Linked DNA regions of Homo sapiens. The protein of the gene in region 1 purifies or fractionates together with the protein of each later gene. This does not show direct contact. Each region holds a gene or a part of one and is shown in the gene's direction. Other genes may lie near its edges.

The links.
Region 2: the proteins of SPIN1 (region 1) and STK38L purify together in Homo sapiens (affinity purification with mass spectrometry, with the first as the bait; one large-scale study listed by BioGRID). This does not show direct contact.
Region 3: the proteins of SPIN1 (region 1) and SAR1B purify together in Homo sapiens (affinity purification with mass spectrometry; one large-scale study listed by BioGRID and IntAct). This does not show direct contact.
Region 4: the proteins of SPIN1 (region 1) and RIOK2 purify together in Homo sapiens (affinity purification with mass spectrometry; one large-scale study listed by BioGRID and IntAct). This does not show direct contact.
Region 5: the proteins of SPIN1 (region 1) and PPIL4 purify together in Homo sapiens (affinity purification with mass spectrometry, with the first as the bait; one large-scale study listed by BioGRID). This does not show direct contact.
Region 6: the proteins of SPIN1 (region 1) and PYGM purify together in Homo sapiens (affinity purification with mass spectrometry; one large-scale study listed by BioGRID and IntAct). This does not show direct contact.

The regions. Positions count from the first base shown.
Region 1 is NC_000009.12:88,463,981-88,468,987, forward strand, and holds part of SPIN1 (spindlin-1), read left to right. Parts: intron 1-4,391; coding exon 4,392-4,625; intron 4,626-5,007. UniProt on the Homo sapiens protein: Chromatin reader that specifically recognizes and binds histone H3 both trimethylated at 'Lys-4' and 'Lys-9' (H3K4me3K9me3) and is involved in piRNA-mediated retrotransposon silencing during spermatogenesis.
Region 2 is NC_000012.12:27,316,353-27,321,359, forward strand, and holds part of STK38L (serine/threonine-protein kinase 38-like), read left to right. Parts: intron 1-983; coding exon 984-1,101; intron 1,102-1,543; coding exon 1,544-1,667; intron 1,668-2,975; coding exon 2,976-3,071; intron 3,072-5,007. UniProt on the Homo sapiens protein: Involved in the regulation of structural processes in differentiating and mature neuronal cells.
Region 3 is NC_000005.10:134,629,014-134,634,741, reverse strand, and holds the start of SAR1B (small COPII coat GTPase SAR1B), read left to right. Parts: upstream 1-1,913; 5' UTR 1,914-2,014; intron 2,015-2,542; exon of another isoform or gene 2,543-2,665; intron 2,666-5,728. UniProt on the Homo sapiens protein: Small GTPase that cycles between an active GTP-bound and an inactive GDP-bound state and mainly functions in vesicle-mediated endoplasmic reticulum (ER) to Golgi transport.
Region 4 is NC_000005.10:97,165,318-97,170,324, reverse strand, and holds part of RIOK2 (serine/threonine-protein kinase RIO2), read left to right. Parts: intron 1-1,472; coding exon 1,473-1,565; intron 1,566-2,333; coding exon 2,334-2,858; coding exon of another isoform or gene 2,859-2,886; exon of another isoform or gene 2,887-3,579; intron 3,580-5,007. UniProt on the Homo sapiens protein: Serine/threonine-protein kinase involved in the final steps of cytoplasmic maturation of the 40S ribosomal subunit. Involved in export of the 40S pre-ribosome particles (pre-40S) from the nucleus to the cytoplasm.
Region 5 is NC_000006.12:149,518,073-149,523,079, reverse strand, and holds part of PPIL4 (peptidyl-prolyl cis-trans isomerase-like 4), read left to right. Parts: intron 1-1,908; coding exon 1,909-2,020; intron 2,021-5,007. UniProt on the Homo sapiens protein: PPIases accelerate the folding of proteins. It catalyzes the cis-trans isomerization of proline imidic peptide bonds in oligopeptides.
Region 6 is NC_000011.10:64,745,413-64,750,303, reverse strand, and holds the end of PYGM (glycogen phosphorylase, muscle form), read left to right. Parts: intron 1-2,945; coding exon 2,946-3,080; intron 3,081-3,316; coding exon 3,317-3,383; intron 3,384-3,495; coding exon 3,496-3,645; 3' UTR 3,646-3,906; downstream 3,907-4,891. UniProt on the Homo sapiens protein: Allosteric enzyme that catalyzes the rate-limiting step in glycogen catabolism, the phosphorolytic cleavage of glycogen to produce glucose-1-phosphate, and plays a central role in maintaining cellular and organismal glucose homeostasis.

The DNA.
Region 1 (5,007 bases):
TGAAGGTTCCTGCATATTGCTGCATGACCTGTGGTTGTTGGTCCTTTTGTCATCGAAGGATAGAAACTGTACAAGTATCTCTGGTGATGGGACTAAGGGTTCCATGTTGTTTGTAGTTTGGTATTATCTCTGTTTCCAACAATAGTAATTTTGTAAACATTCAAGCAATATAAAAAGAAACCCAAGAGCTTTTCTGTAAATCAGCAATATATATGCCTAATTCAGCTAATAGTTGTTATTAATTTTAGTATTCGTGGTATTAGGTTGGTGCAAAAGTAATTGCGGTTTTTGACATTGAAATTGAAAGTAATGGCCAAAACAGCAGTTACTTTGGCATCAACCTACTTTAGTCTAAAAAATTACTTGCTCTTCACTTACGTTTTACGTCGGAAGCAATTGCTTCAGGCAGTACATTAGAGTATAATTAAAATTATGTTTTTCTTAAGCTAAAGTTAGAGAAAAAAGTCAGTCAGCCAGAATGCATGTGATGTCACAGAGCAGTGGTTCCCAAAGCAAGGCCTGGGGACCCTTGGGTTCTCTGAAGCCCATTCAGGAGATTTGCAAGGTCAGAAATATTTTCATTTTGTTAAGCTGTAATTCGCGCTTTTCACTCTCTCTTTTTCTCAATTACACAGTGGAGTTTCCCACTATCTATTTGGAAGATTTGCATAACTTAGTGAACACAATATTTTCTTTATGAGCAGTGCATGGTACCACATCATGCATTGGTGAAAGAGCTATTCAAAGTGCAAGACTAACTACTTTTTTTTTAATTGTAAAAAAACATAGCATAAAATTTACTGTCCTAACCATTTTTAAGTGTACAGTTCAGTAGTGTGTTAAGTACATTCGCATTGTTGAAACAGATCTCCAGAACTACTTCATCTTACAAATCTGAAACTCTCTACCTATTAAACAAAACAACCTACCTTTCCTCCCATTCCCAGCCCCTGGCAACCACCATTCTACACTCTGTCTCTATGAATTTGACTATTCTAGATATCTCATAGAAGTGGAATCACACAGTATTTGTTTTGTGAGTAACTTATTTCACTTAGCATAATGTCCTCAAAGTTGGTTCATGTTGTAACGTGTGACAGGATTTCCTTTAAGGCTGAAAAGAACATTCCATTGTATCTATATACCACAGTTTGTTTATCTGTTCACCCATTAATGGACATTTGGATTGCTTCTACCTCTTGGTAGAATGTAAAATTGTACCATGTAAAATTGTGAATAGTGCTCCTGTAAACATGGATATGCAGATATTTCTTTGAGATCCTGCTTTCAGTTGTTTTGGATATAGGCACAGGAGTGGGATTGCTGGATCATATGGTAATTATAATTTTAATTTTAGTATCGTAATTCTAATTTCTTAGGTAGAACTACCATACTGTTTTCCACAGCAGTTGTACCATTTTCCAGTCCTACCTACAGTATACAAGGGTTCCAGTTCTCCATCCCTTAGTCAGCAGTTGCTATTTACTGTTTTTGTCATAGTGGTCATCCTGATGGGTGTGATACGATACCTCATTTTGTTTTGATTTGCATTTCTCTGATGATTAGTGATATTGAGCATCTTTTTATGTGCTTGTTGGCCACTTGTAAATCATCTTTGGGGAAATATCTACTCACATCCTTTGACCATTTTTTAATTAGGTTATTTTGATTTTTGTTGAGTTGTGAGAGTTCTTTATATGTTCTGGAGACATGAGTTTTAATGTAACAGTATGACAGATTTATTAATGGTTTCAGATTCTGCATTGTAACTAACCTTTAAGGAGCTAACTGTTGAATTCTGTGGTTTCATATAAGTATATCTAGAATTATCTGAAAGACGATTAGAATATTCTTTTCAGTATCATATCTTTGAGAGGCTGGATTTTATACCTGAACTGAAAGAGCAGATCATAACAGATTGAGTGCTAAAGCAGATATGAGAATCTACTTGTTCTTTTTAAAACCTAGACATTAGGAGATTTGCAAAAATGTAAAATTAAGCCACTCTTAATGTATTTTGATAGGAAATAGTTATTTTTAATTTAAAATGCATTGATATATAGGTATTTTTAAATAAATGTTTCTAGATTTGTTTTTCATTTTCTGAAGTAGTAAATATTGGTAGGCATTATCTATGTAAACAGATGCTTTTTTAGGTCTGTAGTAATTTCCATTTATGTTTTAATTTTTTTTTTAGAGACAGGATCTCGCTTTGTCACCCAGGCTGGAGTATAGTGGTGTGATCAGGGCTCACTGCTGTCTCAACACGTTGAGCTCAAACAGTCCTCCTGCCTCAGTCTCCTGAGTTGCTGGGACTACAGGCACTCACCACAGTACCCTGCTAATTTTTAACTTTTTGTAGAGATGAGATCTCATTATGTTGCCCAGGCTGGTCTCAAACTCCTGGCCTCAAGCAATCCTCCTGCCTGGGGCTCAAAGTGCTAGGATTATAGATGTGAGTCGCTGTGCCCAGCCAGTAATTTTTAAGAATGCACATGGAGTTCTGAGATCTAAGTCTGAGATCTACTGGCTTTAAGAAACTAGTGGGGTTTTTTTACTGTCATACACGGGGGGAATTCTGTGTAATTTTTTATTATTACTGCGTACTTAAAACCAGCCATACATGTTTAGGGTTTGCTGATAAAATTAAATAGCAATACATGTATCAAGAAAATCTCACTTTTTTGTTTCTTTTGATGTAACAGAAATAGAAGTTTGTTGAATGAGGAAAATAGGAGAGCTAATTGTTTGTTGTTGTTGTTTTTGTTGTTGTTAAGACAGGGCCTCACTCCCGTAGCCCAGGCTGGAGTGCAGTGGCGCCATCTTGTCTCACTGCAGCCTCGACCTCTGGGTTTAGGTGATTCACCACCTGAGCCTTCTCAGTAGCTGGGACTACAGGCCTGCACTGCCACACCTGGCTAATTTTTTGTATTTTTAGTAGAGACGGGGTTTTGTCATGTTGCCCAGGCTGGCCTCAAACTTCTGGGCTCAAGTGATTCGCCCGCCTTGGACTCCCAAAGTGCTAGGATTACAGGCGTGAGCCACCGTGCTTGTCTCTAATTGTTTGTTTGTTTGTTTGTTTGTTTTTTAAAGATAATTGTTTAAATTTGGTATAAAGACAGTTATCTAAAATTGTGGACTGGAGAAGTCTTAAAACCAATGGGATCCTTCATAGTTTTTCCAGTATTAAAAAGATGAAGGTGATAATTTTCACCACTTTTGAAAAATATTAAGGGCTAGGACCGTTAATCTATCATTTCAGAGACCTGAGCTCCCAACCACATGGGGTATCTGATTAAATCATACAAATACTGACCTGCTATGATCTAGGTATAAAACAAGAAAGGGAAGGTCTCTGCTTTCATGGGGATGTACAAGCAACTAACAAGTACACAAATAACATAAAGTGGGATAACTTTAGATCATGGTGAATGTTATTAAGAGGTAAAATTGGGTAATGTGACTGGGATTTGTGGGGCTACCTTGTTGGTCAGGAGAACTCCAAAAGGAACCGGCCTTCTGAAGGTATGGGGAAGAGCTTATCAGGCAGAGGAGAGTGTGTCCTAATGGGAGAGGAAGAAGAGCAGAGTAGAGAACGCATGAACAACAAGGAGGAAGATGGGAAACCTGAGGGCAGAGGCGTGAAGGCTTTTAGGGCTTGGGGGCTATGGTGAGCAGTTTGGTTGTTTTTCAAATTATAAAGGGAAGGCATGGGAACATTTTAGATCACACAATGTGGTATCAGTGACACAACGATTACTTTGGTTGCAGTGAAGAATAAGATTGTAGGAGCAAGAGAGTAAAAACCTATGCCTTAATAAAAAAATGGAAATAAGACTGAAGGAAAACAAACACCAATTTCTTTAAAAAAAAAAAACAAAAAAAAAACCCTCTGTGCCTTGAATAGCTTTTCTAAGTTTTAAATAAACGTTCTGTGGTTATGTAAGATGCTAATACAGGAGAAGCAAAGTGAACCGTATACAGGAACTCTACTATTTTTCCAGTTCTTCTGTAAGTCTGAAATTATCTCAAAATTTAACTGTTAAGTAAACAATAACAAACAGTATTTTATACCTTGAATGAACAATTAAAACTTTTGATTTGGGTACAGAACCAAGAGCAGATGAGTCCAGAAAAATAAAAAATCATATTTTTTTCAATTAACTGACTTGGGACAAAATACTTCTATTCTGTTGAATCCATCTCTGAGCTGGGGCCCAGTAGTTTGTCTTTGGTTTTTGTACTTTTTAAAGCTTTCCCAGATTCTGATGCTTGCTAATACGTTGCATGGACAAAATTTCAGGTGTAGCCTTCTTTAGTAAATTCAGTCTTCATAGTCGGTAATCAGCGAAACACTTTGTCAACTTTTTTTTTTTTTTTTTAATCCCCAGCGACATCTCGAATCAGCGATGCACACTTGGCAGACACAATGATTGGCAAAGCAGTGGAACATATGTTTGAGACAGAGGATGGTTCTAAAGATGAGTGGAGGGGAATGGTCTTAGCACGTGCACCTGTCATGAACACATGGTTTTACATTACCTATGAGAAAGACCCTGTCTTGTACATGTACCAACTCTTAGATGATTACAAAGAAGGCGACCTTCGCATTATGCCTGATTCCAGTAAGTATATATTGGCAACTTTTATATGTGATAATTAGAAGGGATTTGGACTTCAGTACAAGATATTTGATTGGCTCTTTTGCAGATACATTTTTATTTTTGGATATATGATTCTTTTAGTCATGCACAAACACAGCCTTTGAAATTTTTCATCCAGTTGTTATAAATGTTAGATAAGAAAATATTTGATAGTCAGTTCTGCTTGGCTTCTGTAATAAGATACAAGTTGTTTTATAATTATTAACACTACTACATATTACTTCTTGCTTTTATTTAAAAACATGATGGAATAGGGATCAGTAAAATACGTCCCCGTGTACCCTGCTCAGCTTTAACAGTTATCTCATCGCCTGTCTAGTTTTATCTGTTAGTCCCCCCAGTG
Region 2 (5,007 bases), on another chromosome or scaffold:
GGGGAAAAACTGAATACTGCTCAAAATTATGGTGGGGGAATTCTGTACCCCCCTATTTACAAAATATTCATGGGTGATTACTCAGGTGTGTGTTTTATTATTCTCATGGCCAGTAGTTGCCAAGCCTTAGATCGAGTGTTTCCCAAGGGAGAAGTAGAGAGGACTCAGTGTTTGGGGCAGGAAATTTCTTTAGCACCTGGATCCCCTGCCCTGTAAATGCCAGTTATGTCACTGAGATGACAAAATCTGTGGTCCTACATTTTGCCATGGCCCCAAGAGTACTACCCCTGGTTGAGAATTACTGCCTTGTAGAAATCATTTTTGTAAGATTTTATATGAATTAAGAATTAAAAACTGCATAGCTTCCTAAAGGATAAGCAGTACCCTGGAATTACATTTATAATGAAAATACCTCATGCTTATTTTTGTAGTTTGTAGTTTACAAAACACATGCCGTTTATTGTTTCATCTTCATATCAACTCTATTAGGGCAGGTATTATTATTCTAGTTTTATGTAAGCAGAAGCTGAGCCTCAGAGAAATTGAATAATTTGCCCAAGAACACATTAGTAGTGAGTGGGGAAGCCAGGTCTTCTAGGTTCAACTTTTTCATTCTTTTTGAAATAGACTGAAGGCTATATATATAAATAACTTAACTGAGCTTCTTGTGGGGGCAGAAATGATATATTCTTATAAAATGCCTGGCACATATGGACACTCTATAAATATTTGTTCAACTAAGTGATGAAAGGAAAACTAATTCAGCATTCCCTCAGGAAAGTAAATAGACTGAAAAATAGTAGTCTATAACATATTATCTGACTCACTACCTACCACTAAGCCTTGCACATGATAAACATGCAAAATAAATACAAGTGAAAATTTAACTCCTCTATATATTGCTTTTTCCAGTAGTAAGCCATCCTCAGATAGATATTTTTTAAATGTTAAGAATGCTGGTTTGACGAGTTGCTCCTTTGTAGGCATATTCCACAGTTGGGACACCAGATTACATTGCTCCAGAAGTATTCATGCAGACTGGTTACAACAAATTGTGTGACTGGTGGTCTTTGGGAGTGATTATGTATGAAATGCTAATAGGTATGTTTTATCATTCATTTATGTACAAAATATATACATTTCCTTGAGTGCCATTGTTTGAACATATTACAGATATCATTGACTAAAATATTTGAAGTCTTTTAAGCTTAATTCTGATGTTCCCCCAATGTTAAATACATACTGATCAATACCAGTGAGCTCCCCACGGATCCTGTTTCAGGAAGGTGGGTATTTAACCCAAACTCCCACGTATAAAAGTGGTTATCTACATAGCTTTTCAGGTAAAAGGGGAGGCAGTGCTTTCAATCCTTTATTTTATTGACTTTATTAGCAACGTGATTGTAAATTGATGAATGGTGGCATTTTTGACTGTTAAATAGAGCACTCAGGGTTGTTTGGTTTCTTGTCGCACATGTTTGGTGGGTATAAACTTCACTGCTCACAAAGCTGATGAAACATTTTTGATTTATTTGATACATAGGATATCCACCTTTCTGCTCTGAAACACCTCAAGAAACGTACAGAAAAGTGATGAACTGGAAAGAAACTCTGGTATTTCCTCCAGAGGTACCTATATCTGAGAAAGCCAAGGACTTAATTCTCAGGTTAGTGGTTAAATTCCTAGAGGAGTTCATAGTGTCTTAAAACTTCCTAAGAACCTAAAAGACTCATTTCACTTTTGTGGGGGAAGAGGGGATACCACTGATGTATACAGTCAAAGAGATCAATAAAGGTGTTTTTAAAAATGTAAACTCTTAAAAGGAAGTATGCAGAAAAAAACGTAGGAATTAAAAAGAGGGAGGAAGTCTTGTATTGCTTCTGTTACTGATATATATAAAAGCAAAAGGTCACTTCTGTTAGAATGCAATGACCTGATTCCATTAAAGAGAAAAAGGAAAATGTTAATAGCAGATTCCTGTCATGAAAAGTATATATGTAAAATCTTCTAAGCAAAAAATTCCATGTGTTCCTCAACTAATATGAAGTGTTTTGGTACTGCTGTGAATGGCTGGAAGGAATATAAATTGGGACAACTTGTGGGAATAGCCAGTTGGCAGCATATTATTTTTTTAAAATCCCTAAACTATGTATGACCTTTGACCCAGAAGTTCTACTTCTAGGGATTTCGCTTATGCAGATAATCAGATACGTATAAAGATTTAGGTACACTATGATTTTCATGGTATTTAATAGTGAAAATTGAAAACTATTTAAATGTTCAACAGTAGTGGACTGGCTCAATAGTAGACTGTCTATAATACCTCTATATGTAAATTTTAGAAAACAAATTTATTGGCTGGGCACAGCAGCTCATGCCTGGAATCCCAACACTCTGGGAGGCCGAGTTGGGCAGATCACAAGGTCAGGAAATCAAAACCATCCTGGCTAACATGGTGAAACCCCGTCTCTACTAAAAATACAAAAAATTAGCCGGGCGAGGTGGCGGGCGCCTGTAGTCCCAGCTACTTGGGAGGCTGAGGCAGGAGAATGACATGAACCCGGGAGGTGGAGCTTGCAGTGAGCTGAGATCACGCCACTGCACTCCAGCCTGTGTGACAGAGCGAGACTCCGTCTCACAAACAAACGAAAAAAAAATTTATTGAAAAATATTTAATGACTTTGGCAAATTTTCTCAGTATATCAAGTGAAAAAAAGCAGACCTAACATAGTAACTATGGTAGCAACACAGTATTTTTAATATTGTAAAAGATTAGCATATTTACAGTAGTTATCTCTAAACAGTGCGCTTACAGATGATTTTTATTTTCTTCCACATTTCCTACAATAAACATAGTTAACATCAATAAAAGAAAAACATTATATTTCTTTAAAAAAGAAATATTTGAAGTAATGCAGCTAGAATACTTTAGATGTAACTTGTGTATGATAATTTCTCTGTTTCCATGTTGTAGATTTTGTATTGATTCTGAAAACAGAATTGGAAATAGTGGAGTAGAAGAAATAAAAGGTCATCCCTTTTTTGAAGGTGTCGACTGGGAGCACATAAGGTATGTTCCTAGGCTTTGAATGGGAAAGGTCTGAGTAAAAACAAATTTCTAGAGTTGGCAATTAATTTACCTCTGATTCTGCTAGATTAAATACAAAAGTAACATATAATGTCATTAAGTGCAGTGTTTTCTGGATTATGTAAGTGAGTGGGACTATTGTGGCTACAGCTTGATGACTCATTTTAGGCTAACATCCACTTTCAGGGAAGAACATTGGGAAGCTGTTTAAATTCTTATATTCATATTCACAGTGAAGGCTGTTAGCACATGAAACATGTATTTACATTTCACACAGTGACCCCTCATTTTTGTCCTTGCTGTAATATACCACATACTGTCTCCTTAATTAATTTATAATAAGGTACAGTCCCTCTTTAAACGGTGGTTGGGCATTAAATAATACAAGTAACTTTTAAGAATTTGCTTACAGTTGTTAATTGTGAGCATTGGCTTTTTTCAGTTTATGGCCAAACTACCATTGGTAGTTCTGATCTGTTCTCCACACAGCAACAGTTTAGAAGCATAAATCTGGCCATGCCACTTTCCTGTGGCCTTTTGCACTTGGAATACAGTTAAGAAGCCTTCACTGCTTTCTTAGGACTGCAGGATATGGCGATTGCCTCATCTGCAGGAGTTGCGTCTTGGATGGCCTCTCCTACTCCTCTTCCCACCTCTAAGTTTTGCTATTTGCTATCCATCCTGACTGAAATGCCCTCTCCCTGCTGCCTCTACCCCTACCCTGCCTAGCTGGCTCCTTTGCATCTTCCAAGATAGCTTATGTGTCATTTCCTTGGTACAGCTCTTCACTGGTGAACCTGCTGTGTGCTAGGCACTCTGCCTATTATTATTACTTATTTTTTTGAGACAGGGTCTCACTCTGTCGCCCAGGCTGGAGTGCTGTGGCATGATCATGGCTCACCGCAGCCTCGACCTCCAGGCCTCAAATGATCCCCCCACCTCATCCCCGCAAGTAGCTGGAACTATAGGCATGTGCCACCACACCCAGCTAATTTTGTTGATTTTTTTTTTTTTTTTTTTTTTGTAGAGATGGGGTTTCACCATGTTGCCCAATTGCCCAGGCTGGTCTTGAACTCCTGAGCTCAAGCGATCCACCTGCCTCGGCCTCCCAAAGTGCTGGGATTACAGGCGCCTAGCCCACTCTGCCTGTTGTAATAATAGCTAATTTTTAAAAATCATTTATTGTGTCCAGCACTGTTTTAAGTACTTTACTTGCGTTTCTCATCTTATCCTCATATAAGCTCTATAAAATAGGAACTGTTATTATCCCTGTCTTACAAGTGAGGAAACTAAGGCACAGAGAAGTTAAGTAATGTGACTATAGTGCTGCAGCTAGTAATTTTTTTTTTTTTTTTTTTGAGATGGAGTCTCACTCTGTCGCCCAGGCTGGAGTGCAGTGGCGTGATCTCGGCTCACTGCAAGCTCCACCTCCCGGGTTCACGCCATTCTCCTGGTGGAGGCCTAACTCTTAACCACTATGCTGTATAATACTATACACACATAACTTAATTGAATAGAACTAGAATACCCTCCCTTTTACAGTGGGAAGGATGCTTAGAGACTGCCAGTTCTTTTGGTTTTATAATGAGGGAACAGTCATGGAGCAGGGATTTGGCTGCCTAAGGTCATACTGCTAGTTAATAACAAGGAAGGTTAGCTCTCAGGCCTCCAGGGTTCTTTCCTCTAAACTAGGTTTATTAAAGTAGTATACTAAGTATAAATGAGTTGGAATAATTCTGGTAAAAAATATATATGGTTTTAAATAATTTGGTAAACTTAGCACCTAATAAATCCAATAAATATTTGTTGAAAAAACAGAAGCAATAAAAACTGATAGCTTCTTTTAACCATTTGTATAGCTAAACTTTTTAGCATGATAAGAAGGCATTTTCATGACTGGTTTCTTTTTAACTGAGTA
Region 3 (5,728 bases), on another chromosome or scaffold:
AGGCATTCAAGACCAGGCTGGGCAACACGGTGAAACCCCATCTCTAATAAAATACAAAAAATTAGTCGGGTGTGACCAGCCTGGGCAACACCATGAAACCCTGTCTCTACTAAAACACAAAAAATTGGCCAGGCATGGTGGACTGCGCCTGTAATCCCAGCTACTTGGGAGGTTGAGGCAGGAGAATTGCTTGAACCTGAGAGGCGGAGGTGCAGTGAGCAGAGCTCAAGCTCGCACCATTGCACTCCAGCCTGGGCGACAGAGTGAGACTCCGCCTCCAAAAAAAAAAATGCTGACTATCTGACTACACTCCTGTAATCTCAGCACTTTGGGAGGCAGAGGCCGGAGGATCGCTTAAGCCCGGGAGTTCAAGATCAGCGTGGGCAACATAATGAGACCCCTATCTCTACAAAACAATTCAAATATTAGCTGGGCCTGGTGGCACACGCCTGTGGTCCCAGCTACATGGGAGGATTCCTTGAGCCCAAGAGATTGAGGCTGCAGTGAGCTATGATAGCACCACTGGACTCCAGCCTGGGAGAAAGAGCAAGACCGTCTATATATATATATAATTTTTAAATTTATTTTTAATTTAATTAATTTATTTATTTTTTGAGACGGAGACAGAGTCTCGCTCTGTCGCCCAGGCTAGAGTGCAATGGTGCAATCTCGGCTCACTGCAACCTCCACCTCCCGGGTTCAAGCAATTCTCCTGCCTCGGCCTACCGAGTAGCTGGCGTTACAGGCACCTGCCATCATGCCTGGGTAATTTTCGTATTTTTGTAGAGATGGGGTTTCACCATGTTGGCCAGGCTGGTCTTGAACTCTAACCTCAGGTGATTCACCCACCTTGACCTCCCAAAGTGCTGAGATTACAGGTGTGAACCACCGCGCCTGGCCAAGACCGTCTATAAAACAACTGAATAACCAGCTGAATAAAAGCTGAATAACCAGCATCCAACACATTATCTGGTACGTAGCTACATTGTGTAAATCACTGGTGAATTCAATAAGCACAAATAACAAAAAAAGAAAAAAAAATGAATTCAATAAGCACGTGTACTTTGAAAATGTATTTTAGGCAGGGCGCGGTGGTGATCCCAGCACTTTGGGAGGCTGAGGCAGGTGGATCACTTATGCTAGGGAGTTTGAGACCAGCCTGGCCAACATGATGAAACCCGGTCTCTACTAAAAATACAAAAATTAGCCGGGCGCAGTGGCTCACGCCTGTAATCCTAGCACTTTGGGAGGCCGAGGCGGGCGGTTCACTTTAGGTCAAGAGTTCGAGACCAGCCTGGCCAACATGGTGAAACCCCGTCTCTACTAAAAATACAAAAATTAGCCGGGCATGGTGGTGCGCGCCTGTGCTCCCAGCTACTCAGGAGGCTGAGGTAGAAGAATCGCTTGAACCCGGGAGGCGGAGGTTACAGTGAGCTGAGATCGCGCCATTGCACTCCAGCCTGGGCGACAAAATCGAGGCTCCGTTTCAAAAAAAAAAAAAATTAGCCGGACAGTGGTGGCGGGTGCCTGTAGTCCCCGCTACTGGGGAGGCTGAGGTAGGAGAATCTCTTGAATCCAGGGGGTGGAGGCTGCAGTGAGCCGAGATCGTGCCACTGCACCCCAGCCTGGGAGACAGAGCGAGACAACGTCTCAAAAAAAAAAAATGCCAAAAGTAATTTCCCCTAGGGAGGCATGGGGTGTTCCTTTCTCGGCACGCAGGCCCCTAAAATCCCTTCGGGCGGGCGGGTGTGGGGAGACCAGGCGGCTGGGAGACCCAGGCGGTGTTAGGGGTTGCGAGCAGCCTCGCTCAACTGGGGAATTGGCGGCAAGACTGCCAGGAGGCGGAACCTAGGGCGCTCGGCGACGCGGTCCTGCGGACTGTCGCTAGTGAGGCACCCGCCGGCCCGGAAGGGGCTGATGCGAACTGGGGCCACGGCAGCCATCGCGCTTTGCAGTTCGGTCTCCTGGTGTACGGCCAACGCCAAGTAGGGGATTGCGTTCCCTCCAGTCGCAGGTGAGTGACAGCCCCTCCTTCTGGGAGGACCGGTGGGCAGCAGCTATGGATCCCCTAGAAGGCGCACTTTTAGGGCCAAGACCTACTCTGAGTCCCTGCCTGTGGCACTGCGTGAAGGGGCGCCTGTTTTTCACCCCGGGGTTAGGCGGCGCGAGGGAGGACAGGTCTCATCCATGCTCCGCGGGGCCGTCTGATAGCCCTCGAGGCAGAACACTGCTGCTGTCAGACGCTTGGTCTTTTCAGGAAAGAACGAGGTGGCTGCAGGCAAGCCCCTTCCTTCCCCTGGGCCTCAGTTTCCTTACCTGGTAAGGTGAAGGTGGCGGGTCTCACTGACAGCTGAAGAGGCTGTGACACGGCCTGGTGTTTTCAGCGCTCCCAATTAGTGTAGAGGCAAATTGAGCTTCCTTACTAGTACTGGTTAACGTTTTCCGTAGCCCAAAGTCCCAGTTAAGTGGAAAAAAGATACACTGTTGAGAAAACTGTACTGATTTTTGTTTTAATTTTTTAAATTTTTGTTGTTGTTTTGAGACAGAGTTTCCCTCTTGTCGCCCAGGCTGGAGTGAAGTGGCACGATCTCGGCTTACTGCAAGCTCCGCCTCCCGGGTTCACGCCATTCTCCTGCCTCAGCCTCCCGAGTAGCTGGGACTACAGGTGCCCGCCACCACGCACCGCTAATTTTTTTGTATTTTTTAGTAGAGATGGGGTTTCACCGTGTTAGCCAGGATGGTCTCTTATCTCCTGACCTCGTGATCCGCCTGCCTCGGCCTCCCAAAGTGCTGGGATTATAGGCGTGAGCCACCGCATCCGGTCTAACTTTTCTATTTTTAGTAGAGATGGGATTTCTCTATGTTGGCCAGTCTGGTCTCCAACTCCTGACCTCAGGTGATCTGCTCGCCTCGGCCTCCCAAAGTGCTGGGATTAAAGGCATGAGCCACCTCAGTGGGCCACTGTACTGATTTTTAAGGTGTTGAAGCTTTTCCAAGAAGATTTGTTTTAAAACAGCTAAAACTTTGACATTGTTAGCTGAAAGAACCAAATTCGTCAGCAATTTAAGGTGTTTGGTACAGTGGACAAAATGAGGTGAAGAAGTCCTTTTAACTTGAAAAATTAAACATAGTATTATTTATTTGTGTGTTCTTACATCAGCCTCTATATTACTAAGTGTCTTTGAAGACGTCCTATATTCCGTGTTAAAGTATCAGTGAAGAGTAGGTCACATTGAAACAATGAAAGAAGGAAAGAAAAGGAACATTTATTGACTACTATGAGTAAGGCACTAGCTGTCATTTTACAGATGACAAATAAATGGTGGTGCCAGTATAGCAAAGCAACATGATTATCTACTATTATACCTTTCAGTAGACTTGTGTCTGTCACCAAAATGTTTTGAACTTAAAAAATGTTAAGATAGTTCATTGGCATTTTCTGAGTTTGTAGAAAAGGAAGGTGTCTTCATTTTAGAAATGTCAGAGATGCACTGTCAGTAATTACAAAGATTAGCAGTTTAAATAAGGTATATTTTAACCTTCCTTTGACTTGCATTATTGTACTGGAATAGAAATTCAAGCAAGAATTAAGAAAAAAGATGAGTCTAACAGAAATGAAAATCAGCCTGGGCAACATAGCAAGACCCAGTCTCTACATTAAAAAAAAAAAAATTTGCTGGGTGCAGGGCCCTGGCTAGCAGGCCAGTAGTCCCAGCTACTCGCTGCTGAGATGGGGGGTTTGCTTGAAGCCAGGTCAAGACTACAGTGACCTGTGATCATGCCACTGCACTCCAGCCTGGGTGAAAGAAAAAGACATTGTTGCTAAAAAAAAAAAAAAAAAAAAAAAAAAAAGAAAAAAAAAGAAATAGAAAAGGAAATGAAAATCATTGCCACATCATTTGAAGCTTACAAGTTGGAATGCTATATTAGTATTTCTTTTCTTTTTTCTTTTTTTTTTTTTTTGAGACGGAGTCTCGCTCTATCGCCCAGGCTGGAGTGCAGTGGCTCCAGGCTGACTGCAACCTCCACCTCCAGGGTTCAAGTGATTCTCCTGCCTCAGCCTCTCAAGTAGCTAGGATTACAGGCATGCACCACCACATCCTGCTGATTTTTGTATTTTTAGTAGAGATGGGGTTTCACCATGTTGGCCAGGCTGGTCTTGAACTCCCGAACTCAAGTGATCTGTCCGGCTTGGCCTCCTAAAGTGCTTGGATTACAGGCGTGAGCCACTGTGTCCTGCTATAGGTGTATTTCTACACTTACTTTTTTTTTTTTTTTTTTTTTTGAGATAGAGTTTCGCTCTTGTTGCCCAGGCTGGAGTGCAATGGCGTGATCTCCAGCTCACTGCAACCTCTGCCTCCTGGGTTCAAGCGATTCTCCTGCCTCAGCCTCCCGAGTAGCTGGGATTACAGGCATACACCACCACACTCAGCTAATCTTGTATTTTTAGTAGAAACAAGATTTTTCCTTTTTGGTCAGGCTGGTCTCGAACTCCCAACCTCAGGTGATCCGCCCCCCTCAGCCTCCCAAAGTGCTGGGATTACAGGCGTGAGCCACCTCCCCCAGCCTTCTACACTCATTTCGTTAAGTACTCACTTGGCTGAGCATAGTATTTCTACGCTCGCTCACTTTAAATACTCATCCCAACTCGGGGTTTCACTATGTTGGCCAGGCTGGTCTCGAACTCCTGACCTCAAGTGATCTGCCTGCCTTGGCCTCCTAAAGTGCTGAGATTACAGATATGAGCCACTGTGCCCAGCCCTCACCTTGGCCACTCTTAAAAATTTTCTACTATTTATATTTGTCATGGTTTTATCCTTCGTTTTCTTTTTCTTTTTTTTCTTTTTTTTTTTTTTGAGACAGAATGTTGCCCTGTTGCCTAGGCTGGAGTGCAGTGCCACGATCTTGGCTCACTGCAACCTCCGTCTCCCGGGTTCAAGCAATTCTCATACCTCAGCTTCCTGAGTAGATGGAACTACAGGTGCCTACCACCACACCCAGCTAATTGTTTTTTTTTGTTTGTTTGTTTGTTTGTTTGTTTTTTTGAGATGGAGTCTTGCTCTGTCGCCCAGGCTGGAGTGCAGTGGCGCGATCTTGGCTCACTGCAACCTCTGCCTCCCAGGTTCAAGCGATTCTCCTGCCTCAGCCTCCTGAGTAGCTGGGATTACAGGTGCACGCCACCATGCCCAGCTAATTTTTGTATTTTTAGTAGAGAAGGTGTTTTACCATGTTAGTCAGGCTGGTCTTGAACTCCTGACCTCGTGATCTGCCCGCCTCGGCCTCCCAAAGTGCTGGGATTACAGGGGTGAGCCACCGTGCCTGGCCTATTTTTGTATTTTTTCTTTTGTAGAGACGGGGTCTTCCCATGTTGCCCAGTCTGGTCTCAAACTCCTGGGTTCAAGTGATCCCCCCACCTCGGCCTCCCAAAGTGCTGGGATTACAGGCATGAGCCACTGCACCTGGCCTATTTTTGTATTTTTTTTGTAGAGATGGGGACTTCCCATGTTTCCCAGGTTGGTCTGAAACTCCTGGGTTCAAGTGATCCCCCCACCTTGGCCTCCCAAAGTGCTGGGATTACAGGTATGAGCCATCATGCCCAGTTCATCCTTCTTTTTTTTTTTTTTTTAAAGACAGGGTCTCACTATGTTGCCCAGGTTGGAATGCAGTGGTGTGATCATAGCTCACTGCTTGAATTCTTGGGCTCAAGCAATCCTCCAGCCTCAGCCTC
Region 4 (5,007 bases), on another chromosome or scaffold:
TACTGCGATAATCATATTCTTCACATTACTTATTTAAACCAAGCCAGCCAAGTCATGAAACAGGACCTTATCCTTTATTTGCTTGAGGTTTATGATTCAATTGAGTGTAACTAAGGATTTTTTTTTCTTTCTGTTCCAAGCTTTATGAGAAACTTTTTTCCTAAACTAACAACTAGTATCACTTATATAATAGAGTATATTAATTCTTCCAGAGATTGAGCTTGAAGTAGTTTTGTTAAGTGAAGCGTCTCTTCATCCTGGTTTCCAGTAGAAAATGTCTATACTTATGCTACAGAAAGAAATGTCATTTGAAAATAAATTTTTAAAACGTTTTCAACAAAATAATACTAAAAGATTAATGCCTGGCACTGGGGTGGTCAGTACTCTTTGGATGATGACTAATCATGATTTTTATTAATAAGGAGTAACATAGTCACACAGTAAAGGAACATCTAGGAGCCTCCAGAGTGTGACAGATTATGACATTCTAGGTTTAGGCTGCATCGTTCTATGGAGAGACATTGTGATTTAATTTCAATTTTTATGAACCAGTTCTGGGGCCAAGGAGCTGTGCTAATTGCTAGAGATTGAGATATAAATAACCCCTATATATGCTTTAGAAAATGTTACTGTCTCGTAGGGAGATGTAAACATATATAAAATAGTCTTTTTAAAATGTATTAGTATTTTTCCCAGAGTACCCTGTGAGCAAAGAGGAGAGGCATTATCTTCCTATTTCCAAACTTCATCTTTCTCAAAGAGAGTCAATTGCACATTATCCTGTCCTTAATTCTCCCTTGTCTGGAAATCTTCTAGAGAATTGAATCCATTTTTGCTGCTTTGTGGTGGCCCAAAAAGGCAGCCTGATATTCAGATATTGTTCTACTTTTGGTCCAGATTAACATGTCCTCAGATTATTTTTATAGGCTGTAGCATTATTTATCCCTTTGGGTGTTATTGCAAATCGGCTAATGGATAACAAAGATACATAAACATAATTCAGTAGTCTCCAAACTTAACTGTTTAATATTAATATCTTTTTATCGTCAGATCTTTCAGTTGGCTAGGGGTTCTAGTGAGTGTTGCTGATAAGAAGCATAGCCAGACTCAGGACGAACAGAATAAGTGGAAACCTATCCCCAAACCATAGGCCCATTATCTTATTTCCTGGGGTTCACATTCATCTTTCCCTAGTGTATCTAACTATATACCAGTAACTATGACAAAACCTTGACTTTCCTAACCGTAGGAACTGCATGGCATTGACAGCTTATATCCTTGAGATTTCCTTGGATTTTAGTTTTTCAAACACACTGGTTAACTCATTTGTATCTTTTTTCTTTTGTGTAACATCTTTTATCTCCTTGTGTAAGGAGGAGCAATACCATTAACCAATAAGTATATTGTCATTGGCTAATAAGGAAAAAGAGGAGCAATAAAGACTATATCATAAATGATTCTTGCTTTTGCAGGTATTTTGACAGAGATGTTAAATGCATTAAAGATTTCTTTATGAAACGTTTCAGCTACGAAAGTGAGCTTTTTCCAACTTTTAAGGATATCAGGTTTGTACTCCCCATTGCTTTACATAATAGAACAGTTTAAATATCTGGTCTGTGTATTTCTAAAAATTAACATTTTCATCTAAAAAACTTTCCAAATTTTGACACGTAATCACTGTTAGATGTCATTGCTCTGTAGTACATAACTGAAACTTAAAAACTTGAAAATACCTGCATTTGGTCCATTAAGGCACTGTTACTGAATTTTAGGAAGCGGACATATCTAGATTCTTATAAATTCAAGAACTTTTATTCTATTTTGGATGCTATTTGAGTAACTCATTCATAAGGAATAACACCAAACATTCATTGAAATTTGTGTTTTTCCTTTATCAAGGACCAGGAGGTATCTTTAATTGATTCTCAAAACATAACTATCATGTGCATTCTCAAAGCTCAGTTTTCTCATATTTATTTTATACACTTAAGATATTTTCTGATCTGGGATGAGTCACATAATCTGAAGGAAATCCTTAGCCCCCTTTGAAAGTTAATTTACAAAGTTAATAAACATAAGCTGAGGTTTTTATAACCTTTTTATTTATATTGTTGCTTTTCAGTTATTTTATTCTTAAAATGACAGCCAGCATATACCTTTCATATTTGTTTACCTGTGTCATTTAAATATTACATTTTAGGGAAGGAAAATTTATTTTTAACATATAAGCTATTAAACTCACTTGAATCATAATTTATCAGAGTAGTAGATATTTGCTCCTCTTAGATAAACATTTTTTCTCTCTTTCTATGCTTGACGCCTTTTTTTTCTAGGAGAGAAGACACTCTTGATGTGGAGGTTTCTGCCAGTGGCTACACAAAGGAAATGCAGGCAGATGATGAACTGCTTCATCCATTAGGTCCAGATGATAAAAATATTGAAACAAAAGAGGGATCTGAATTCTCATTTTCAGATGGAGAAGTGGCAGAAAAAGCAGAGGTTTACGGGTCAGAAAATGAAAGTGAACGGAACTGTCTAGAAGAATCAGAGGGCTGCTATTGCAGATCATCTGGAGACCCTGAACAAATAAAGGAAGACAGTTTATCAGAAGAGAGTGCTGATGCACGGAGTTTTGAAATGACTGAATTCAATCAAGCTTTAGAAGAAATAAAAGGGCAGGTTGTTGAAAACAACTCTGTAACTGAATTTTCTGAGGAGAAAAACAGAACTGAAAATTACAACAGGCAAGATGGTCAGAGAGTTCAAGGAGGAGTCCCTGCTGGCTCTGACGAGTATGAAGATGAATGCCCTCATCTAATTGCCTTGTCGTCATTAAATAGAGAATTCAGGCCTTTCAGGTATAGACTTCTGTCGATTGCTTTTTAACTTTAGTCTTGAGACTGATACTTTGTTAGATTCTAGTAAAAGAATGTTTTTTTCAAATGATGTGACAAAATTGTATTCTGCCACCTTGATGTATAAAATGAAAGCCAAATAATTTTTTGTTGTTAAAAACTCAAAATAGCTTCCTTTTCAATTGACCTGATTCTAGGCAGCCTATTGACTAAATTTCAAGTAATTCTGCCTTAAAATACAAACTGATGGCTGGGCACAGTGGCTCGCTCATGCCTGTAATCTCAGCACTTCTGGGAGGCCAAGGCAGGCAAATCACCTGAGGTCAGGAGTTTGAGACCAGCCAGGCCAACATGGCAAAACCCTGTCTCTACTAAAAATATAAAAATTAACCGGGCATGGTGGCCTGTGCTTGTAATCCCAGCTACTTGGGAGACTGAGGCAGGAGAATCACTTGAACCTGGGAGGCAGAGGTTGCAGTAAGCCAAAGATCGTACCACTGCACTCCAGCCTGGGTGACGAGCAAAAAACTCCGTCTCAAAAATATATATATATATACAAACTGATGATTTTAAAATTATTGCAGGTCTCTGGATACATTGATCAGGTTTTAGATGGATGAGTTATTCCTCATATATTTTCCTAATTACACATCTGATGTGTGTTTGAGTTATGTAAAGGCATGTAAATATTAAAACATGCAATAAATGTACTTTCTATATGAAACATCTGCAGTGAATTTTCTCTAGTACCTTGAGCCTTCTATCCTTTGTTCATGTGTAGTTAAAATTATCTAATGATATTATGTTTTCTTTTAATAATTTTTTTTTGTAAATATTAATCAGGCTCAGCTTAGATTAGGAAAAGTTCTAAAACTTAATTTTTGGATTTGGGATTGCTTATTCAGAATCAAATTGTAGTTAAATGAAATATTGGTTTTATTTATTTCAAAATAGTAATATGACAATTAAAATTAGTTCAGCAATACATTTATTAAACATTTTTCAGTACATGTTTGGGCTTATATCTTAAGCCTACCTTTATCTTTAAAGTTTTATTCCTGAAGCAAAACATGAGAATTTTGTTCCTTTTTCATATAGCTGTGTATCTGTGTCACAGGGCTACTGCCATTTAAATAATAAACTTGGAAAATTAAATCAGAAGCTTAAAAGGAAAAGAGGGGTGACAGAGGCTCAGGATTTTGAGTAAGTGATTGTATTAGACTGGATTCTTCAAAGAAACAGAATAAATAGGAGATTTATTTTAAGGAATTAGCCCATGGGGTTATGGAGGCTGAGAAGTCCCAGGATCTGTAGTCAACAAGCTAGAGACCAAGGAGAGCCCATGGTACAGTTCCAGTCCAAATCCAAAGAGCTAAGAACCAGAAGAGACAATAGCATAAGTTCCAGTCCACATCCAAAGAAAGGAGAGGACCCATGTCCCAGTTCAAAGACAGTTCTCTCTTACTTTGCCTTTTTGTTCTCATCAGGCCTTCAATGGATTGGATGAGGTCCACCCACACTGGGGAGGGCAATCTGCTATACTCAGTTTATTGATTCAGAAACGCCCTCAAAGACACACCCAAGTTAATGTTTAACCAAATATATGGCACCCTGAGGCCCAGTCAAGTTAACATATAAAATTAACCATCACAGTGATAGAAGAAAATCTATATAGGATTAAATGGTCTTTTAAACTCAGAATGGGAACAATAATTTTGTTCCCACTCTGGATACATGCTGGGCAAAACTTCCATTCAAAGTAAAAGCAGAACAGCAGATGTTGCTGAAAAATATTAACTGTTAGGAGTTAATATCGTCCGAGTTTTTATACATTGCATATATTGAAACTTTGAGCCATGTGAAAAACATTAGTCTCTAGGTTGCAGATTTTCCTACCCTAGTGGAGCTGACTATAATGAGTACTGTCTGTTTCCATTATATCTTCTGTTTGTGAAGGTGGAAAGAGTCTCAAAAATTTAGATAGGGAGAGACAGATTTATATAGTTCAGTGAAAGAAGAGGAGAGGATTATTAGAAAAGGGAAGATGAATTGTGGGGAGGTGATAAATTTCAATGGCTTAAGCATTCTACTGTTTTTAAATTTTGATAGTGACTAACAAAATGCTGGAAAATGAAAATTGTTAATGTATAGA
Region 5 (5,007 bases), on another chromosome or scaffold:
CTACTTCAAAGACATGAGGATATTCTCCTGTATTATTTTTAGAAGCTTTGTTGTGAAATTGTTTCCCATTCAATTCTGTAATTTGCTTTTGGTGTATTGTATTACATTGTTTCGTTTTTCATACATTGGATTGCCACGTGACAGCACCATTTATTTAAAAGGTTGTCCTGGCCAGGCGTGGTGGCTCACGCCTGTAATCCCAGCACTTTGGGAGGCCGAGGTGGGTGGATCACGAGGTCAAGAGATCGAGACCATCCTGGCCAACATGGTGAAACCCCGTCTCTAGTAAAAATACAAAAATTAGCTGGGCATGGTGGTGCGTGCCTGTAGTCCCAACTACTCGGGAGACTGAGGCAGGAGAATTGCTTGAACTCGGGAGGCAGAGGTTGCAGTGAGCCAGCATCGCACCACTGCACTCCAACCTGGCGACAGAGCAAGACTCCGTCTCAAAAAAATAATACATAAATAAAAAGTTGTCCTTTTTCTCTGAGGTCTCTACTGATGAAAAAAATAATAAAAAAAGTTGTCCTGCCCCACAGCTCTGTAGTACCACTTTTGTTATAAATCGGTATCCATATATGTATAGAGTCTGTTTCTAGACGCTATACTGTTGCACTGATCTATTTGTCTATTCATATACCACTGTTACATTGTGTTAATCACTATAGGTTTATAAATGTCTTGATAACTGTGAGTCTTCCAACTTTGTTGTTTTTGAAGATTGTCATAGCTGTTTTTGACTTTTGAATATTTATTTTTGAATCAGTTTCTCAATTTTGAAGAGATTTATTAACTATTATTTAGGTGTAAGTAAATTGAGTATTTGCAAATACTATCCTCCTGAAAAAGTGATCTTCAGAGCTTTCTCTTTGGGGATATAGCATGGTGATAGAATTATACCTGCCTGAAAATAATCAGTCAGATTCATGAAACGTACACTGATTGCCTACGTTTTAGATACCATGCCATATGATGTTCTAAATGATGTAGTTACAAAGACGAATCAAGCTTTGTCTATATCTTCATGGATTTTATAATTCATTTAATTATTGACATGTAATAAATATGATTATAACTATTTTATCTGCTTCTCTTTGGATTATCTCTAGTAAGAATAAGTTTCCAGGAATGTAAAAGAAAATTGGTCAGTACTGAGTTGAAATATGTAACTGTCAGTGTCAGAAACAGGGATTTAGAATTGTGAAGTTACTGACAGGAAGGATTCTTGTGTAGCACAGAGCTTGGTATTACAGTCTCACAGTTCATTATCTAAAACCCTTGAGAATAACTAGGCTTCCTAATTCAGAATTTTTCAGAATTCAGAAAGGTAATACTGTATATATGCATACACACATACACATTACATCTGTGATTATGTAATACCTTTCTGGGTCAGCATTCCATAATCTGTCACAAAAGTATTTCTGCAGTGAAACAAATGAATATTCATACTAAGTGGATAAAAAAAGGTCATAACCTACCATTAGGTTTGGTGTTACTGCCAAATTAATTTTAACAACAAACTTAGGAACACAACTTTCACTTTCCAGGATGTTTTTGAATTTTGAGTAAAAAGGATTGTGAACCTGTATAATACAGTCAGTAAGTGTATATTTATCTGTTCACTGCAGTTGGACTGTCTCTCTAAAATCCTGGCTCTGACCCTTGCCAACAACTTCTATACTTCTCTAAACTTCTGTTTTCTCATTAAGAAAATGGATAGTACCTCATGGGGTTGTTACCAGAGGTATTTGAGGTAATAGATACAAAGCATTTAACAGCATCGGGTGTGTAATAAGTATTCAAACATTAATTTTTGTAACAACAAACTTTTTGTATTTTCAGTATTCTAGCTACAGAAATCTTTTCCATAAAGATTTATGCTTGAGTTTTTATAATTATTATCAGGAAGAAGATTGTGAGAAAGCATTCTTCAAAATGGACAATGTGCTTATAGATGACAGAAGAATACATGTGGATTTTAGCCAGTCGGTTGCAAAGGTTAAATGGAAAGGAAAAGGTATGATGGTTTATCTTTTGTTTTTGTTCTGCTTTTTTTTTTTTTTTGAGATGGAGTCTCGCTCTGTTGCCCAGGCTGGAGTGCAGTGGCACGATCTTGGTTCACTGCAACCTGTGTCTCCCAGGTTCAAGCCATTCTCATGCCTCAGCCTCCCAAGCAGCTGGGATTACAAGCATGTGCCACCATGCCCAGCTAATTTTTGTATTTTTAGTAGAGATGGGGTTTCACCACGTTGGCCAGGCTGGTCTCGAACTCCTGACCTCAGGTAATCCACCGCCTTGGCCTCTCAAAGTGCTGGGATTACAGGCGTGAGCCACTGCGCCCGGCCTTGTTTTTGTTATGCTTTTCATGCTTGTATGAGCCTTTTATTGAGTGCTGTTAATTAGGAGAAATATTAATTGATGTAACTCCTGCCATTTGTAATTTTACAAACCTGCTATCTAGAATCTGAGGTAGAGTGTGTGTGTGTGTGTGTGTGCACACACATGCATGTGTGCACCTGTGCGTGTATTTTAAACTGATGAAAAATTATATTTTCTATGTTTGACTATATTATAAATTACTAATAATTACCCACTGCAGACATGATATGTTTCCAAAGTAATTATTTTGACTTTATGGTGTTTTGAGTCTTTTAGGTGCACAACTTAAATTTTTTTTGTTTGTTTTAGTTGTCATATGATGCAAAATAGAAAAGGTCCATGGAAAGGTAGATAAAAGTCTCATTCATTCCTGCTCCTCATCTATCTAATTTCTCTTCCAGGGTAACCATTATCACCTATTGGTACTAACTTTCCCCTACATTTTTTGAATACATATGTGCATATATATATATATGATTTTCTCCTTTTAAAAAGGAAAATATAAAACAAAGGATGCAGGCTATACATACTGTTTTTGTACCTTGCATTTTTTAATTAACAGTGTATCTAAGAGATCAGTTCATATCAGTATATAAAATGAACCAGCCCTGTTAATGGGTTTTCTAAATTTTTACTCTTCCATGTCCATAGCAGTATGTTCCACCTTTGTACATATTACATTTCCCACATACACATACATATATGTCAAATACATTGCTCGTAGCATGTCAGTCTTAAAAGTTGGGTCTCTCATATGTTGAAATAATACGAGTTTTTGGTTTTTGATGCAGTGTTTTTAACAGGTTTCACTTTGATAGTTACTCACATGTAATGCTAAATTTTACTGGGAATTTCAGGGTTACTTTCTTTTTCTATAACACTTATTTCCCATGCTTTTAATGAACTGTTTTTTTTGTCTGTTTTTAGTAAGAAAGAAAAACACTATTTAGTTGTGAATTGCTGAATTGTTTGGTGGATTCTGTTACCTTATGGGAGTTCAGAGAAGGAAGAAATTATTAATGTGACTAAAGTAGGCAAGGAATGTTGAGTGGAAGCTGTGATCTCTGTGATAAAGGAGAGGGTGACTTGGATTGGAGTTCCATGTACTATTAGTTTCTCCTGTGAAACCTTACCTCCTCCTAGAACACATGGCTAGTTTTTGACAGTGCTGTTTGAGTGATTTGTGAAACCTAAATTGAAGCACTAAGATTTTTTTCCACATATGAAAATTACAACTTTGTGAATGAAAGATTCCAGTAAGTATATTCAAAGTGTTGGTGAGCTGCTGGCCTGATGCAGTGTAGTTCTGGCCAGTAGTAATGCCAGGTGGCTCTTATGTAGAGCTCTGCTTCCAAAGAGCTAGTTTAATTGTATCATTTGGGAAGTGTATGAAATAAATATTATAATTCCTCATTATAGATATGGAATTTGAGGCATAATCTTGAGAAGTGATTTACCTAGAGTCACATACACAGATGATTTAGACAGACCCTACATTTGGTTTGTTTTTTACCCTCTCAATCCTGTCTTCTTCTCAACCCATCCACCCATTGAATAAATACTACTACTTTCTTGTGACTTTTAAATAAATTTCTTCATGTTTTTTCCTAAGATAAAATGTCACATAGGAGGGAGAAGCTTTGGTTTTGTATATGCCATCATAAACATACAGTTTATTATTCTCAGTTAATTTTGAGATAATTATATATGTTATTGATTCACATTTATAAACTTAATGTGTATAATGTGCCATTCACAGCACTAAGAACTTTCCTTTATAGTCTGATGATTCCAGCAACTCTGTGAAATGTTGGTATTATTTTCAGTTTATAAATGAAGATAATGTAAATAAAGATAATGAATTGCAGAGAAGTGGTGTCTTACCTAGGACCTCCCACTACAGTCAAGAACCTCTTACATTAATCTGGTGCCCTTTCTGTTATACGGTAACTGCTTCATCCATAGTGAGACTTTTAATGGCAGGCAGATGGCAAATAATTTTTCAATGATAAATGATGGCTGTTTGTTACCATTACCAGTTATTTTAACTCTTGCAGTAGACTGTTTCACATTTATGGGAAACATTGCTGGCCACTTTTGTTTCTGGAGTCTCTGGAATTGCCAAATAGATTGATCTTGTCTTTTTTGCTTACCCTATGGGTCCCCCTTTAAAACCCTGACAATCAAGGTACACATAGGATTCTCAGTCAAAACCTCTGTCTGTACCTCCAGTTTGTTTTACTTCTACATTTAATCTAGGACCCTTCTGTAGGAAGCCTTTCTACAAACAGCATTTCCTAGTGGTGTGGTTGAGGGATAGGAAAGGCAGGGCAGTCAACAGGTCTGGGACATGGATGCGAATTGAATTCTCATCTGGTAGGAGACTTGAAAATTGAATTCTCATCTGATAGGAGACTAGAGTTGAGAGTAGAGAGGCTGCATTGAATGCTCTTCCTTTCTAGCCCTACCAAGCTAGTTAGGATGTAGCAGTAGGTCCTATTTTCCTGAGGGGATTTTTGGCACTTGGGAGGAATGAAGTTGCCCCTAAGTTAGAATTTCAAAGTAGAGACAGTTTGTCTTTGGTGCTATTACCCACCCTCTCCTCTCACAGCTGTTTGGTGATCT
Region 6 (4,891 bases), on another chromosome or scaffold:
GCACGTCTGGAAAGACTGGTCCAGGCCCAGCAAGGTCTTGGTCATGGCCAGCAGGATTCTGGGAAACTTTAGAGGGCGCTTACAGCAAATAAGGTTAATGAAATTGGAAAAGAAAGAAGTAATATAGAACTGAAGGAAAAGGAAGAGAATATTATATCAACCCTAAGAGATAATATTGTTTGGGAAATGGAAGTAAAAAAATCCTTGCTCTACGCCGGGTGCGGTGGCTCACACCTGTAATCCCAGCACTTTGGGAGGCCAAGGCGGGCGGATCACAAGGTCAAGAGATCCAGACCATCCTGGCTAACACGGTGAAACCCCATCTCTACTAAAAATACAAAAAATTAGCCGGGCGTGTTGGCAGGCGCCTGTAGTCCCAGCTGATCGGGAGGCTGAGGCAGGAGAATGGTGTGAATCCAGGAGGCGGAGCTTGCAGTGAGCCGAGATCGCGCCACTGCGCTCCAGCCTGGGTAACAGAGTGAGACTCTGCCTCAAAAAAAAAAAAAAAAATCCTTGCTCCCTGAAAGCCATGGGCAAAAGGGAAATATGGGCACAGTAGTTACAAGGGGCCTATGGTCAGAAACAGTTCTTCAGAGAAGACATTATCCTGGCATTACATTAAAAAATTTTATTTTATTTTATTTTAATGTATTTTTTTTTTTGAGACGGAGTCTCGCTCTGTCACCCAGGCTGGAGTGCAGTGGCGCGATCTTGGCTCACTGCAAGCTCCGCCTCCTGGGTTCACACCATTCTCCTGCCTCTACCTCCCGAGTAGCTGGGACTACAGGCACCTGCTGCCACGCCTGGCTAATTTTTTGCATTTTTAGTAGAGACGGGGTTTCACCATGTTAGCCAGGATGGTCTCGATCTGCTGACCTCGTGATCTGCCTGCCTCGGCCTCCCAAAGTGCTGGGATTACAGGCGTGAGCCACTGCGCCCGGCCTTTTGTTTTGTTTTGAGATGGAGTCTTGCTCTGTCACCCAGGCCGCAGTGCAATGGCACGATCTTGGCTCACCGCAACCTCCACCGCCCGGGTACAAGCGATTCTCCTGCCTCAGCCTCCTGAGTAGCTGGGATTACAGATACCCACCACCACGCCCAGCTAATTTTTGTATTTTTAGTAGAGACGGGGTTTCATCATTTTGGCCAGGATGGTCTCTATCTCCTGACCTCAGGTGATCCACCCTCCTCGGCCTCCCAAGTGCTGGGCTTACAGGGGTGAGCCACTGCGCCTGGCCTATTTATTTTTATGTTTTTGAGACAGAGTCACTCTGTCACCTAGGCTGGAGTGCAATGGCATGATTTTGGCTCACTGCAACCTCCGCCTCCCAGGTTCAAGTGATTCTCTCACCTCAGCCTCCCGAGTAGCTGGGATTACAGGCACCCACCATCACGCCCAGGTAATTTTTGTATTTTTGTAGAGATGGGGTTTCATCATGTTGGCCAGGCTGGTCTTGAACTCCTGACCTCAAGTAATCCACCCGCCTCGGCCTCCCAAAGTGCTGGGTTTACAGGCGTGAGCCACCGCGCCCTGCTTGAATCCTGATATCTTAGCATTGGAGAGAGATTTTCCATGTTATTAGTCTTCAAAAATATTTTAAATGTTTGTATAACATTCCATCCTATGAGCATGTCACAACTTATTTAATCAATTCCATGTGGCTGGACACTAAGGTTAATTTCCGGTTTGTTAAATATTACTGTGATGAGCAACCTTTTAATGTCTACGTCCACATCTGATGATTTCCTTAAGATAATTATCAGAAGGGTGATATTTCTGAGTTAAAAAGTATGAGTTCTTAAGGCTCTTGATACAGATTGCCAAACTGCTTTCCAGAAAGTTTCTCCCAGTTTACACTCCCACAACAGCTTCCCAGAGTTGGCATTAAACACTGAAAGAAGTGTCTCCTGTGAGGCTTCACTAGAAAGCTGGCTGTCCCATGGGCAGGAGGGAGCTGTGAGATGTTGTGAGCATGGTCCCGCATGCTCAGAACGAGGCCTGGAAGAACCCTCTGGCTGCAGGATGGAGACAGTGCTGGAGGGGGCAGGTGGGGGACCACTGTGGGGGCTGACACCATAATGCAGGGAGAGTTGCCTGAGAGTCGCACAAGGGACTAGAGAGTCGCACGAGGGATTAGAGATTTTGTGGGGAGCGCTGGTTTCTGGTTGGAACGGTTAGGTTTTGAGACTGGCCTGTGGAGCGCTTTGAGCCGTGGTGGGGGCGCTGAGGGTCAGCTGAAGGGTTATCTTTTTTTTTTTTTTTGAGATGGAGTCTTGCTCTGTTGCCCAGGCTGGAGTGCAATGGCATGATCTCGGTTCACTGCAACCTCCGCCTCCCGGGTTCAAGTGATTCTTCCACCTCAGCCTCCCGAGGAGCTGGGATTACAGGCACACGACACCATGCCCGGCTACTTTTTGTATTTTTGTAGAGACTGGGTTTCACCATGTTGGCCAGGTTGGTCTTGAACTCCTGACCTCCTCAGATGATCCGCCCACCTCGGCCTCCCAAAGTGCTGGGATTACAGGCGTGAGCCACCATGCCTGGCCCAGTTGAAGGGTTGTACCTGTTAGCTGCTCTTGCTGCCCCAGGGCAAGGCCGGATATGGACTTGGGCTACTGGAGGAGAAAAGCCATTTTGGAGCAAACAAACTGGTTAAGAGACAGCAGTGGCGTGTGGGAGAAAAGAGCTTGTTTGGGGGCCTTGGCTCTAACACTTAGCTTTCTGTATCCTCCGGGCCTCAGTTTCTTCATTCACAAAGGAGGGATGAAAAGCTGAGCAGAGAAGGGGAGTTGCAGGGAGGCCCTGCAGGGGCGATGTGGCAGCCCTGGGGAGCAGCAGGCTGGACCTGGGTTTTGACCCTGGGGCATGGGACTTCTCAGCTTTTCTCTGGAAGAGGAGCCAGGAACCCCTTTCCGGGGAGCTGACCACAGCTCTGTCCTGGCAGGTACAATGCCCAGGAGTACTACGATCGCATTCCTGAGCTTCGGCAGGTCATTGAGCAGCTGAGCAGTGGCTTCTTCTCCCCCAAACAGCCCGACCTGTTCAAGGACATTGTCAATATGCTCATGCACCATGACCGGTGAGCTGGTTGGCCCGGGAATCACTCAGGTGGGGCCGCAGGGCAGATCGAGGCTCAGGTGTGTGGTGGGGAAGCCGGACGCGGGTCCTGGTAGTTGGAGCCAGGCGCCTTTGGAAGCAGCATGACCCTCTAGGTCCCCGGCTGTCCACTGGGACAGGGCAGGCTTGGCCCTTGACCTCATAGAACTTATCCTAGCCCCCTAAAGGAATAGCACATGCCTATCCTTTCCCCTCCAGGTTTAAAGTCTTCGCAGATTATGAAGACTACATTAAATGCCAGGAGAAAGTCAGCGCCTTGTACAAGGTGAGGGGTCCTGGGCCAGGGGTTGGCAGGGCTTTGGTGGCCCTGGTTGGGATGAGGCAGAAGGTGGAGATCCTGCCAGCAGAGTGAACCAGAGCTTCCCTTTGACCTGCAGAACCCAAGAGAGTGGACGCGGATGGTGATCCGGAACATAGCCACCTCTGGCAAGTTCTCCAGTGACCGCACCATTGCCCAGTATGCCCGGGAGATCTGGGGTGTGGAGCCTTCCCGCCAGCGCCTGCCAGCCCCGGATGAGGCCATCTGAGCCTCCAGACCAGACCCCAAACCAGCCCTTGAGTCTGTCACACTCTCTTGGGCCAGCCCCAGCACCTCATGCAGAGGGTGGGGTACTGGAGTTAGATCTCTAAGCCCCTCCTGGAACCCTCATTTTCCCCACTCTCAATGTCCCAGTGTCCAGCGTGACTAAGGACACGGGCCCCCTTCCGTCCTCGGGCTCCCGGTCCCCTCCTATTTATGGGGTCTGACCAACTGCACCCACTCCCTAATAAATTCATTCTCCTTGGGAGCCTCCTTACTCCTCTTTGTTGGGAAATATTTTTAGCTCTTGGCGGGCTCAACAGCAGCCGCGCAGTCACCCCCTTATCCTCCACCCTCGGCAGGTGCGTCCCACGGCGGGACGGTGATGGGAGGTGGAGGGGGCGACCCGTGGGGGCGGGGCCTAGGCCTCTCCAGCCCCTTTCCTGGCGTCACCCTCCACGCCTCTCTTCCCAGTGCCGTGTCCATACTAGGTCAGCGGCCAGCCTCGCTGGCCGGGGGCGGGGCGTCTGCCTGGGTGGGGCCCACCGGGGCTGGGAGCCGGGACTTGGGCTGAGGCTTCCCGGACCACGGAGGATCCGCGCTGTCGAGGGCAGGACCCAGGAGGGGGAGGAAGCAGAGGATGCTCGGCGCCTTCTTGGCTCCGCCCTTAGCCCCGCCCTACTGCGGCGTTTAAGGGTCTCTTAGCAGGTGGCTACACTGGATCCAAAGTCGGGGGAGTGTTACGGCAGGGAACACTCGCAGACCGCCTAGTCTAGGCCCTCATTATGGGGAAACTGAGGAACAGAAAGGTCCTGTTTCTAAGTCTTACATTACCAAGACTGAGGTGCGGGGGCGGTCCTGGATCCCCCGCCCCAAGGCTGGGAGGGGCACGCCTCGGAAGGGAGGTTTGGGGTCGGTGGTTTCACAGTGAGTGTGTCTGAAGCCAAATGGTCGGAAACCGTTACCCGCTCTCCTAGGCCCGGCTAGTGGGGACCCCAACCGCCTGCGGCTGCCCCTCCCAAGTTCCTCCCTGTTGGCCAGGCATCCAGGTCTCCAGTCTCCGAGCTGCGGAGAACCCACCGCCACATGCGGCTGCCCCTTTCCATTCGACCCTGTGGGGAGCCAGGCTTCCGGGGCCCCGTTCCTCCTGTGTGAACTGGGCCCCCCGCCCCCATTCCCAGACATCAAGGCCGCGTCTCCAGATAGCCACGATTTCATTCCTCGCTCCCCACAGGTCCCTCTCCCCAAAATAT